3 linked regions of the Homo sapiens genome follow. The protein of the gene in region 3 purifies or fractionates together with the protein of the main gene of each other region. This does not show direct contact. Each region holds a gene or a part of one and is shown on either strand. Other genes may lie near its edges.

Evidence for each region.
Region 1: the proteins of POTEG (region 3) and SCML2 purify together in Homo sapiens (affinity purification with mass spectrometry; one large-scale study listed by BioGRID and IntAct). This does not show direct contact.
Region 2: the proteins of POTEG (region 3) and AP1S2 purify together in Homo sapiens (affinity purification with mass spectrometry; one large-scale study listed by BioGRID and IntAct). This does not show direct contact.

Annotation. Positions count from the first base shown.
Region 1 is NC_000023.11:18,351,812-18,355,894, forward strand, and holds the start of SCML2 (sex comb on midleg-like protein 2), read right to left. Parts: upstream 2,878-4,083; 5' UTR 2,781-2,877; intron 2,466-2,780; exon of another isoform or gene 2,439-2,465; intron 1-2,438. UniProt on the Homo sapiens protein: Putative Polycomb group (PcG) protein. PcG proteins act by forming multiprotein complexes, which are required to maintain the transcriptionally repressive state of homeotic genes throughout development.
Region 2 is NC_000023.11:15,844,809-15,848,460, reverse strand, and holds part of AP1S2 (AP-1 complex subunit sigma-2), read left to right. Parts: intron 1-2,449; coding exon 2,450-2,558; intron 2,559-2,944; coding exon 2,945-3,082; intron 3,083-3,652. UniProt on the Homo sapiens protein: Subunit of clathrin-associated adaptor protein complex 1 that plays a role in protein sorting in the late-Golgi/trans-Golgi network (TGN) and/or endosomes.
Region 3 is NC_000014.9:19,427,840-19,431,491, reverse strand, and holds part of POTEG (POTE ankyrin domain family member G), read left to right. Parts: intron 1-2,502; coding exon 2,503-2,617; intron 2,618-2,776; coding exon 2,777-2,950; intron 2,951-3,652.

The sequences.
Region 1 (4,083 bases), on a different chromosome or scaffold from region 3:
GAAACTTTTCTCTCGCACCCCCAAGAGCTCAAACTAAAATTGGGATTTGGCTCTTCCTTAAATGGAACAAGTGGCTACATCAAGTTAATTCAAAAGACTTGGTATTTACTCAGCCTTTTCAAGGCACTTTACCATCATTAATTATTTCTCAGTGAAGCAGCAAAGGATTACCCTGACCATTTCACTGATGCGGAAACAGACACCAACAGCAAAGGGAACAGGGGCAGGAAGAGGGGTGATAGGAAGCATCTGGGAGGAACAGGCAGGCAGCTAAAAAGGAACAAGCCCAAAAGAAAATAAGAGTCACATCTGGCTTATAGCTGAGGATCATAACCCTTATTTGTTATTTCTGAGCTCAGAGATTTCTGCAACATTTTGAAAAAACAAAGTGCTTTAAAATACCAGTTAAAACTTAATTACAGCTTAAACTACTTAGTAATAGAAATTGCTTAGTATTAAAAAATACCCAATCTTCAGAGCACATATTGATTTCCATTTATACCAGCAACTCATTTTTCCCCTCAAGCTTAACCAGTATGTTATCTATTTGAACCAGAAAATAATCTCATGAAAATATATAGCTTTATATAATCCTAACCAAAAAATCACAAAGTTAACATCACGTAAGTCAGAAATAGTTTGCAGCTACACTCAGAATTTTGTTTGGAGAATTATGACAAAAATACTGACTTCTCGAGTTCGCCCTTTGAATGAAAGGAATACTTGTTCTACATTCGTATTGATTTTTTTAGCTATAACTCCCTGAAATTTTCAGGAATAAACTATGGGTGGAAAGCCTTAAACACCCTGAAATTAGCACACGTAGTGGGCTCTGAATAAACTGAACTCCATAGTAAAGACAGCACAGGTGCTTAATAAAGATGTGTTGATGGAATCATAAATCAAAAGGACTGATCAACCACCTCATGAGAAAAACTGATACACCTTTTTTAGACTGACTGTAATGATTTTTGAACGTTATGACACTATCAACTTTAAAGCACCCGCACATATAATGCAGTAGAGTTACAGTAATCTTTTTTCCAACTACCAATTCCAAAGCAAATCAGGTTCTCTGGGGTAAACAAGTATACATCCTTAAGAAGTTCATATGGCTGCATGATGTATATATAAAGTTCATTCAAAACTTTCAAAGCCAGTTTAAATGGTGTTTTTTCTTTACATTCTATCAAACTGTTTTAAAGGTTATAGATAAAGCTAAACACAAGGCATCAGGTGAATACTCATAAACTCAATCTTTTCTCAAAAATCCCACTGGATTCATTTCCAAAAGCTTATTTTCACATTCCTCCCATTAAATAGAAAAAAAAAAAAAAAACACACAAACAGCCTGAAAGCACATTCGTAATTGGAAATATTTTATTTAATGAGTAATTAAGAAAAATAAAAGAAAGGCAAAATCGTCATTATTGAAAAACATTTCCCTCGCTGTTATTGAAAAGAATTAAATATGCGTTTATGAACCATTGTTATAAAACAATTGCTCATCATAGGCAGCTGTACTCCATAAATGTTGTACATCTTAAAATACTTTTCCCTCAAAACAGAAATATGAATAGCTCTGGGGGCATTAAAATGTAGCAGCATCTGAAGCTGTTTTAGGGAAAAAAACAACTATCTCCAATACTTTTGTAAATCATATGATCATAAGCAACTTATTCACTTTCCCTGCCTCAGTTTACCCCCACTAATCGATCCATTAACTTTCCAGAGAAGACCTAAAGTAAGTCATAAACGTTAATCTCCTAATTTACAAACAAGAAGCAAATTTCAAGTTGCAATCACACTTTGTGATGCTTGACAAATGTTTAACAACCTCTTTTTAAAAAATAAATAGTCTCAAATGGGAGCCTGTAAGTAAATACTTGTGCTGCCCAAACATTTGGGGTTTGGGGGAGCCGAATTACAAGTCGGCCCAGGAAGCTATCTATGTACAACCTTGAGGCGCAAAATCGAGCAAATTCGCCTAGACCCATTCTCCCTCCGGCTCTTCACACCTGGATGGGGCGCAAGCACGATACAGGTGGAAAAAGCGAGAAAGGTAAGAAACCATTTCGAGACTGTTTCTAAGTGACGGCAGCAACTTTTTTTCGGTCAGGCCGCGAGGCCGCCTCTCCGCCCCTCAGGAGGCTTAGAGCCCCTCCTCGCCTCCCCGCCAGCCCCGGACGGGACGCGCATTCCGGTCCCGCTGCACCGCTAGGGTGAGCCACCGGCGCCCCCAGCCCCCGCCAGGAGCCCGGCGGCGCGCACCTTGGCACCAGGATTTGCGCCCGCACGCCGCCACAGGCGCATCCTTCCGGGCCGACGTTTCCCTCCCAAACTCCAAAAGTTATCTCAGCCCAGACCAGGCAAAGTCTACCTCCTTCCTCCGCCCCGCCACCCACCGTGATGCCCCCCAGGCCCCAGCCCGGCCCTACCCACGGCAGGGAGGATGCGCCGGAGGGCGCTGTCGGCGCTGCAGGCGAGGGGACGGGTGGAAGCTATCGGCCGGGCGCCCAAACCCCGCGGCGGCGAAAAGGCCCCGGGGCGGCGTGAGGGGAAACGCGAGATCGGCTGAAGGGCGTCCGCGGAAGGCGCCGGGGGCGGGATACCCTATCGCGAAGCCGAACTGAGATGGGACATAGGCGGGATCGTAAGGGGGCGTTCCTCGCACGGGACGCGCGCTGATGGCTTCTACCCGCCCGCCCACGGACAACGGTCGGGGTCCGGGACACACCTCCGCCTCTCCATTCCTTACGGGGCCCGGAATCACCACGTACCTCCAGTCTCGTCGGTGAAAACAACGAAATTCTGTCCCACCGATCGCGCGAGCCGGCACCGAGCTTCACACCGCCGCCGCCATGTTTGAGAAGCCGCGCGCGGAGCCGCGCATGCCCCGCAACCGCCACTGCCGCCCCGCCCCCCGCGCGGCCGGCCCGCGTGCCCTGCGGTTGCCGCGAGCACGCCCTTTGACCGCCGCCGCGTGCGGGGCCCGAGCCGGGGTCAAGCCGAGCGCCACCGCAGGCAGTGGCGGACCATGAGACACTGTGAGCCCGGGAAAGCCCTTGGCACTTTGCCTCCTACCCCCCACGCCTACGCCAAATGAAAAACCAGTCGCAGCCCAAGCACCCGAGGCCGTGGGGAGCCCCTCGATGGGACCCCGGGTTCCACGTCAAGTTCCATCCCGGGAACTCGCTCCCCTTCACTGTCGCCTTCGAATCCTGGCCACCACCCACCCTGGCCACGCACCCAAAAAGCAGGCGCTTCCCTCGGAACTCAAGCAAGTTCGAGGAGCAGGGAGAAGCAGCTGGTTACAGCAGCTTGAGGAAAGCCACTGCTTGGCGGGTTGCAGCATAGTCCTTGAAACTGCTTTTTTTTTTTTTTTCCATGAGTTTTTGCCACGCATTCACCTCCCAGCTTCACTCTCTGGATTTCGTTCTTCCTCTAAACCCGGGGTTGAGCTAACGGGAACTAGATGAACCCGCAGGGGGAAATCACTTGCTTACTGACTCAGGAGCATCCCCGAGAGTGCGTTTTGGGGTCCCTTCTGCACGCTCCCTTTCCCACCGGGCAAGGCCCATAGCGCAAGTGGAGGTCGCACAAAGGAGGGGGCGTAAAAACAGCTTTAAAACGACCAGTGAATCTCTCAGCACAAATTACAGCAAACAGAACGCCGGAGAAAAACATCTGTCCCTCGTTCTCAGGTTAGGTATAAGCTGATTTCAAACTTTTGTTTGAAAAATAATACAATGTGCTATGTTAGCCAAAAACAAACCATTGCTAGGGCTTCTCTCTCTGGAACTCTTTCCAAAGCTGGATGTAGGTTTTGCATCTGTGATCACCTAACTTAGTGCAGAGGGCATGATATACTTTTTAAATCATGATTTGGAAATCAGAGCTTAAAACTGAGAACAAAAAACTCCTGTGGAATATATCCATTGTCTACAACGCAGGATAGAATTTTCCAGTTGCAGCTTCTGCAGTATTAAGCAAAAGTCAAAGTGTTTATTATATCTAAACATTGGCAAGTGGCACAGAATCAAATGGATCTATTATTTAATGCTTTAAAAATGAAAACCTAAA
Region 2 (3,652 bases), on a different chromosome or scaffold from region 3:
ATGCAATTGCTGGCTATAGTTTTTAATGTAAAACTTGGGCTCTAGAGTCAAATTGCTGTTCCTAGGCAGGTTACTCAAACCTGGGTCTCTTATCAATGCAAATAATAATGGTATCTCATGGATACGGTTGTTGTGAGGATTAGAGTGGTAAAATATGCAAAAGCCTTAGCTAACATTTAATGTCTCATGTAGGGCGAGGATTCAGTGAATGGTACTTAATTATTATGTTTCTGTTTTTTTCCTGCCCTAAGCTTTCTGGAAAGAGGTACATTATTATCCTGATAGCTATCTGTTCACCTACACCAAAGAATTCATTAATTTGATTATTCTTTTTCCATTCCGAGTGAAAGTAAACATTACTGGCTGGGGCTTAGACACATTGTTTCTGATGATTTTTAAATTAATGCTTCCAAGTGATTCATGCAGTTTAGGACCTTTGACTAGTGTTTAAGTGCTTTTTATTTGTAAGTAAAGAGGCAGTACTGTGGATAAGGAGCGAGGATGGTACGAGCATTAGCTTGTTTAATAGTAGCATGAGGAAATCTTAAATAAAAGGAATTTTACTTGAAACTGTTAGTAAACTTTGTATAATAAATTATTTAGCATTCTGTTCCTATCAGCTAGTCATATCTGGTTTTTAATCTACCATTTTTATGTCAGTCCCTTTAATGTTTAGTTTTCTTAAATCAGGGAATCTTATGTGTCATTTATCAGTTTCCTCAAATTCAAAGTTCTATTTAATGAGCATGGGTTAGGGAGGATGGAGAGTTGGAATACTCTATTCTCTTTTAAATAGACAAACAAAAACAGTAACGATGGGAAAGAGAGGGAGCACTTTGTTAAAGTTGGCATTGATGCCCTGTTTTGTCTTCCATGACTTATTCCCTTCACAATGATGATAAATGAACACATGTGAATACCTCCTCTCAATAAGACTGCAGTAGCTCCACCATTTTAAATAACTTACTGAGTGTGGAAGTCAGGTAGAGTAGACATGCACAAACTCATGATATATATGCCAAGTGAGTTTGTATGATACAGTGGAAAAAGGCCTGGAGTTAAGGTCAAAAGATCAGGTTTCTTATCCCAGTACTAGCACTTGTAGGCGCTGTACTCTTAAGCCTCATTTTTTTTTTGTCTTTTTTTAATCTGTGATCAAGGATGAAAGATAGTACTTGCTGTTGAAAACATCAAATAAGATGAAATGGTTTTAATAATGAAATTAATGCTGTTGTGTGAATACTAGTTATTTTCATACTAAGGAGCAAGAATTCATTGAGTCTCAAAACAGGTTGTGTTATTCTGTATACAGTATTATTTTACATTAATGCTACGAGCAGTAACTGCCCATTGTGTTTTCTAAAAATCATTTAAGTGATCTTCAGTGAAAATTATAATCTCCACTGAAATGTTCTGTGTTTAGCCTATCTTAGGTTTTTATTTTCTTTCTTTTCAAAAGCCTTAAGTACATGTAAACCATTTTAAAATGCCCTTTTAATCCTCCTCAAAGGACTTGCTATGCCTCAGGGTTGAAGTTTTGCTTCCTTGGGTCAAGCATAACATGATTCCATATGCTAGAATCCTAATTTGAAGGAGAATATAAGTTTCCCAACCTTATTCCCTCTTCTAGGGTAAATAAACTACACTTCAGTTCAACAGTGTAGAACTTGGTAAATTTGAGAACAGGCCTCTGTTTCCCTTAAGTGATAGGAACTTTCTGTTCTCTTTCTCTAACTTCTGTAATAACGTGGAGCTGTTGTTCTTTTCGTATGGTTTATTCTGCAATCCTAGAAACCTTTTTAAAAACAATTCTATTCTGTTAGAAGTCAAGAGCATAGTTACCCTTGGGGGTGGGAGGTTGTGACTGGGAGAGGGTAGCAGAGGAGTTTCAGGGTTCAGTAGTGTTCAGCTTCTTGATGTGGGTGCTGATATATAGTTGAGTTCACTTTGAAAATTTATTGAGCTTGTAGGACTTAAGGTCTTCTCTGTGTATATATTATACATATTCCAATAAAATATCCCAAAATATTGACCTCACCTTGGCATTATCCTCAACAAGTCCTCCTTCAGTTGGAAGGTTTGTTTTCTTCTCTGTACTTACAGTTTGAATTAATCTGCTATATATTTTGTTTTAATTAAGTAAACTTAGGAAAAACCTGGGTCTGCTATGTTTTAAAATGCTTATAGAAAAGAACCTGAAAGGAAGAAGGGCAAAATCACTTATTCTAAGTGGTATGATTATTTTGATTTTTTCTTTATACTTGCCTATGCTTTTCAAAATTTCTGTTATGCGTTTATTACTTTTGTAGTCTATGAGAAAAATCTGTACTGTCGTGAAAGAAGAAATAAACTGTATAAACTTGGGGCTTTTCATAATAGGATATGAAAATATATTTAGAAAACATCATTATAGGATAACAGTTTTTTTCACATTTGTACTTTGTTACAGATATGCTAGTCTGTATTTTTGCTGTGCTATTGAGGATCAGGACAATGAACTAATTACCCTGGAAATAATTCATCGTTATGTGGAATTACTTGACAAGTATTTCGGCAGTGTGAGTAGTATTTTATTTTAGGAAATTGAATGCCATAGTATATTTTGGAACCTTTTCTCTAACAAGTTTATTTTTTGGTTGTCTTGGGGATTCTAACCGCGGGAGAGGGTGGGAATGACTATTTATTAGTAGAAATTATTAAGTTGTCCATATTGGGAACATGCAGAGCCCAGTCTTATTTAGCTTGTAGGAATATGTTTTCAAGTACTTGAGATTTGGAAATTAAGCTTACTTAAACCAGTGATACTTAGTCATTTTTAGAAAGAGTTAAGATTGATTCACTCTAGTTCGATTTTATTCACTACCTGATAGTGAATAAGCATCTTCTGCTTCTGCAAGTTTTAACAATTTTTTCTTTTCTTTTTTCTTTTTTTTTTCCTTTTCAGGTCTGTGAACTAGATATCATCTTTAATTTTGAGAAGGCTTATTTTATTTTGGATGAGTTTCTTTTGGGAGGGGAAGTTCAGGAAACATCCAAGAAAAATGTCCTTAAAGCAATTGAGCAGGCTGATCTACTGCAGGAGGTAAGCTACTTATTCTCTTCACTAGGCACTAGCATGTTTTGCTCTTGCTGGGGAAGTCTCATTCATCATTCTTACAGTTTCAGAAAGTACTCTGAAGCATGCTTGTCATGTAGTGTCCATCCATGTGCAGTTTATTGACTGGAATATGTGTCAGTCACGTCAACTCAGTTATCTATGGATGGATGGTTCAGTTTGGAGATGGTCTATCGGTCAGGCCTCTTCCCAATGGCCCTTTTTGGACCCTAAAACACTGGAGTCTAAACCTTTAGAGGACAGACTATTTGAAGAAGGGAAAAGATTGGCTGAAAGTAGCAGTAAGTTGAGAACTCTCCATCTATTGCTTCAAATTGTTTAAGATAACCCCCTTTTTCATTAGTGTAGATAATCAGGAGTTGACTATGAGATTATGACATTTTAATTCCAAATTGGCTCATATTTTTACCTCATGTCCATTAAATGCAAAAGTAGCCAAGCAAATGATAGTGTTTTCTAATTATACTTTTTGTAGAAACTTCCAGGTTTTTTTTGTTAGCAAAACTAAACAGTATTTGCATTTCTCTTTGCTCTTCT
Region 3 (3,652 bases):
TAGTGGTAAGAACCACATTTTAAAAATGTTATGCTTTTTCCTCATCAGTTCCATTATACTGAAATATCTTCACCAAATAGATGTCTGTTTTTCTTAGTATTGCTTAAAATAGCAGTGTATTTAGAAAAGCCCATATAAAGATTTCATGAACAAATTTCAGTGCATCCATAGGACGGAATAATATGTAACTATTGAGGGTGTCAGTACATAGAGATATGTCGACATGCAAAGATGTACTTTGCTATAGCAAGTGAGAAAAAAATCAGTTTGTTACACATATACACGAACAGAATCTGCTCTTGTGTTAGCTGAAAATATGTAGAAAATATAATCAAACTTGTTTCTGGGGATTTGTAAATGAAGTTTTTCCTTTTATCTGTGATTTCTGCAATGAACATCTGAACTTTTAGTTTAGGTTCATTAGTAATGACATAATCCTTGGGAAGAGAAGGAATATGCTTCTTGCATAGATGCAAATAATTTCTCACATTCTATTATTTATTTTTATTTCTGTGGTTGGCTATCTACTGTGAACTTTTACCCTCTTCAGAAGTAGAGGGATTGTGTTTACCTGTTCCTGTAGATTTTATTGTATATAGATTTTATCACATAATTACCTTTTCATTATATATAGATTAACATGTAAAAAGTATGAATTAATCATTTTAGTTGAGTTATATATTTATGAAAATTAAAATAGCAAATATAAATGATATTACTATTGCAAATGTATTGCCCTACTCTACAGGAGTTTTCTTTAAAAATATTGAACTCCCAAGCTGTGTTCATCCATTGTTTTCAATCCGTTTAGTCATCAGACATAAGCCAGACGCCTATTATGGGGCAGGCATATTCTACTATCTCTCAGGATCCTTCCATCTTTGAAAACATTTATGTTTGCCTGCTGGGCTTGAGCAAGCTGAGAGATTTAAAATTGGGGCATTAGGACTTAATCTCAATTGAAGCTTCTCCTCCCTCCTTTCAAACAGAAGCATTTCTGAAGGTAGAAAATAGTAAAAGACAACCCTTAACTGCCCTTTTGAAAATGTATAAGTCTTGGATAAAGACTGTTTTAGTTGTTTTAAGAACTAAAATGTGGTACATAAACAGCATGGAATACTATGCAGCCATAAAAGAAGGAACGAGAGCCTGTCCTTTGCAGGAACATGGATGGTGTTGAAAGCCATTATCCTTAGCAAACTAACATAGGAAGAGAAAACCAAATACTGTATGTTCTCACTTATAGGTGGGAGCTAAATGATGTCAACACACAGATACCTAGAGGGAAGCAACACACACTGGGGCCTATCAGAGGGTGGAGGGTGGGAGGAGGGAAAGAAGCAGGAAATAGAATGAACGGGTACTGGGCTTAACACCTGGGTAATGAAATAATCTGTACAACCAACCCCGTTGGTGCACGTTTACCTATGTAACAAACCTGCACATCCCGCACATGTACCCCTGAATGTAAAAGTTGAAAAAAGCTCCACAAATAGTTTCATAAATCCATTTTAAAAAGAGAAAATTTATAACAGTCTTAAATCCTAATATGAATGATTGGAAATATCTGATGTACATACATTGTATAAATCTAAGTATTGAAAAAAATGAGCCCATGCTATTCATTTCAATTCCAAGTTTTGTTTGGCTTAAAGTTTATTGAAAACCAAAGTAAGAATTGGTTTATTTTAGAAATTTGTTTTTGTTTTCACTTCAGCTCTCTTATTCCATAGTACTTTTAAGAACTAAAATTTAAATGCTGGTCATCTGACTGGAACCGCCCCAGACCTGTTACATTATAACATATTCTACTTAATGTAAGGCACCAGAGATTGTACGATGCCCCATTATTTTATGTCTCAATAAGAGAATTATTTAAATGCCACCAATTATAGTAAATCATGAATTGTAAGTGGTATTTCAGTGGAGACAACATGGAGACAATGATCATCTCAGAATCACTAAAATACAATGTTAGCTGTAATATTTAAAACACACCTGAAAGTGTAGGTATAATTGTATCATCTCACTTAATTCAAATGTTGTCTTTAGTGGTATTAGTAAAAATCATAATATCTAACAATTATTGAGCTGTTATTTGTGTTAGGAACTATTCTGTATCTTTTGTGCCGAGTCTCATTTAAGCATTACAGTGGTTTCCTGTGAGAAAGCTACTATTTTCATTCCTATTTTATTGATGAGGAAACTGAGACCCCAAAAGGCTAAGCAACAGCCAGAAAGTGACAGAGCTTCAAGTAGGATTCCAGCCCAAGTTGAATGTCATCCAAGGGCTATGCTCTTTGTATTCATATAGGCTGCTCTTTCATTAATACAGCGAGTAATGAGAGATAATAAATCGTGTGCTTTTTTCATGGGAAAGTTAAATGTTTGTTTTGAAGGCACAGTAATAGCAGGCTATTCAGTGTTTGTGATTATGTGTGTCATTGATATGGCTGTAGCTAGTGCACTACAATTTCCTAAAAAGTCTTCTCACCCTCATAGGACTGCTCTACATCTGGCCTCTGCCAATGGAAATTCAGAAGTAGTAAAACTCCTGCTGGACAGACGATGTCAACTTAATATCCTTGACAACAAAAAGAGGACAGCTCTGACAAAGGTATGCAGTAGCCAACTATGTCAGCGTGAAGTGGGTTTGATTTCAATACATAGCATAAAAATGAGTTTTCTCCTTTAAATATAACTAGTTGGTGAAAGCTGTGGAATGTTATTTTGAAATCCTAGGATTTGTAATTTGTTTATGGTGTAATACTGACAGGCCGTACAATGCCGGGAAGATGAATGTGCGTTAATGTTGCTGGAACATGGCACTGATCCGAATATTCCAGATGAGTATGGAAATACCGCTCTACACTATGCTATCTACAATGAAGATAAATTAATGGCCAAAGCACTGCTCTTATACGGTGCTGATATCGAATCAAAAAACAAGGTATAGATCTACCAATTTTATCTTCAAAATACTGAAATGCATTCGTGTTAACATTGACCTGTGTAAGGGCCAGTTTTCCATATTTGGAAGCTCAAGCATAACCTGAATGAAAATATTTTGAAATGACCTAATTATCTAAGATTTTATTTTAAATATTGTTACTTTCAAAGAAGCATTAGAGGGTACAGTTTTTTTTTTTAATGCACTTGCGGTAAATACTTTTTTTTGAAAACACTGAATTTGTAAAAGGTAATACTTACTATTTTTCAGTTTTTCCCTCCTAGGATTCTTTTCCCCTAATGAATGTAAAATGGCAAAATTTGCCCTGAAATAGGTTTTACATGAAAACTCCAAGAAAACTTAAACATGTCTCAGTGAATAGAGATCCTGCTTCTTTGGCAAGTTCCTAAAAAACAGTAATAGATACGAGGTGATGCACCTCTCAGTGGCAAGGCTTAAGATATTTCTGATTGCTCATGAGGCAGAAGTGGAAAGGGAAAAAGAGAGCAGTCAGAAATATCAGGGCCAATTTGGAAATTAGGCAATAGAGGGAAAAGACCATGAAGAGGTTGTGTGTGTGTGGTGTTGTTGTTGTTGTTCATTTATTTATTTCCTTTGTATGGTGAGACAAAGTTCTCTTTGATTTTAGAGAATGACAGTTTTCAGTTTGGGAGAGGGAGTTAGTGGGTTGTAAACTGCCTA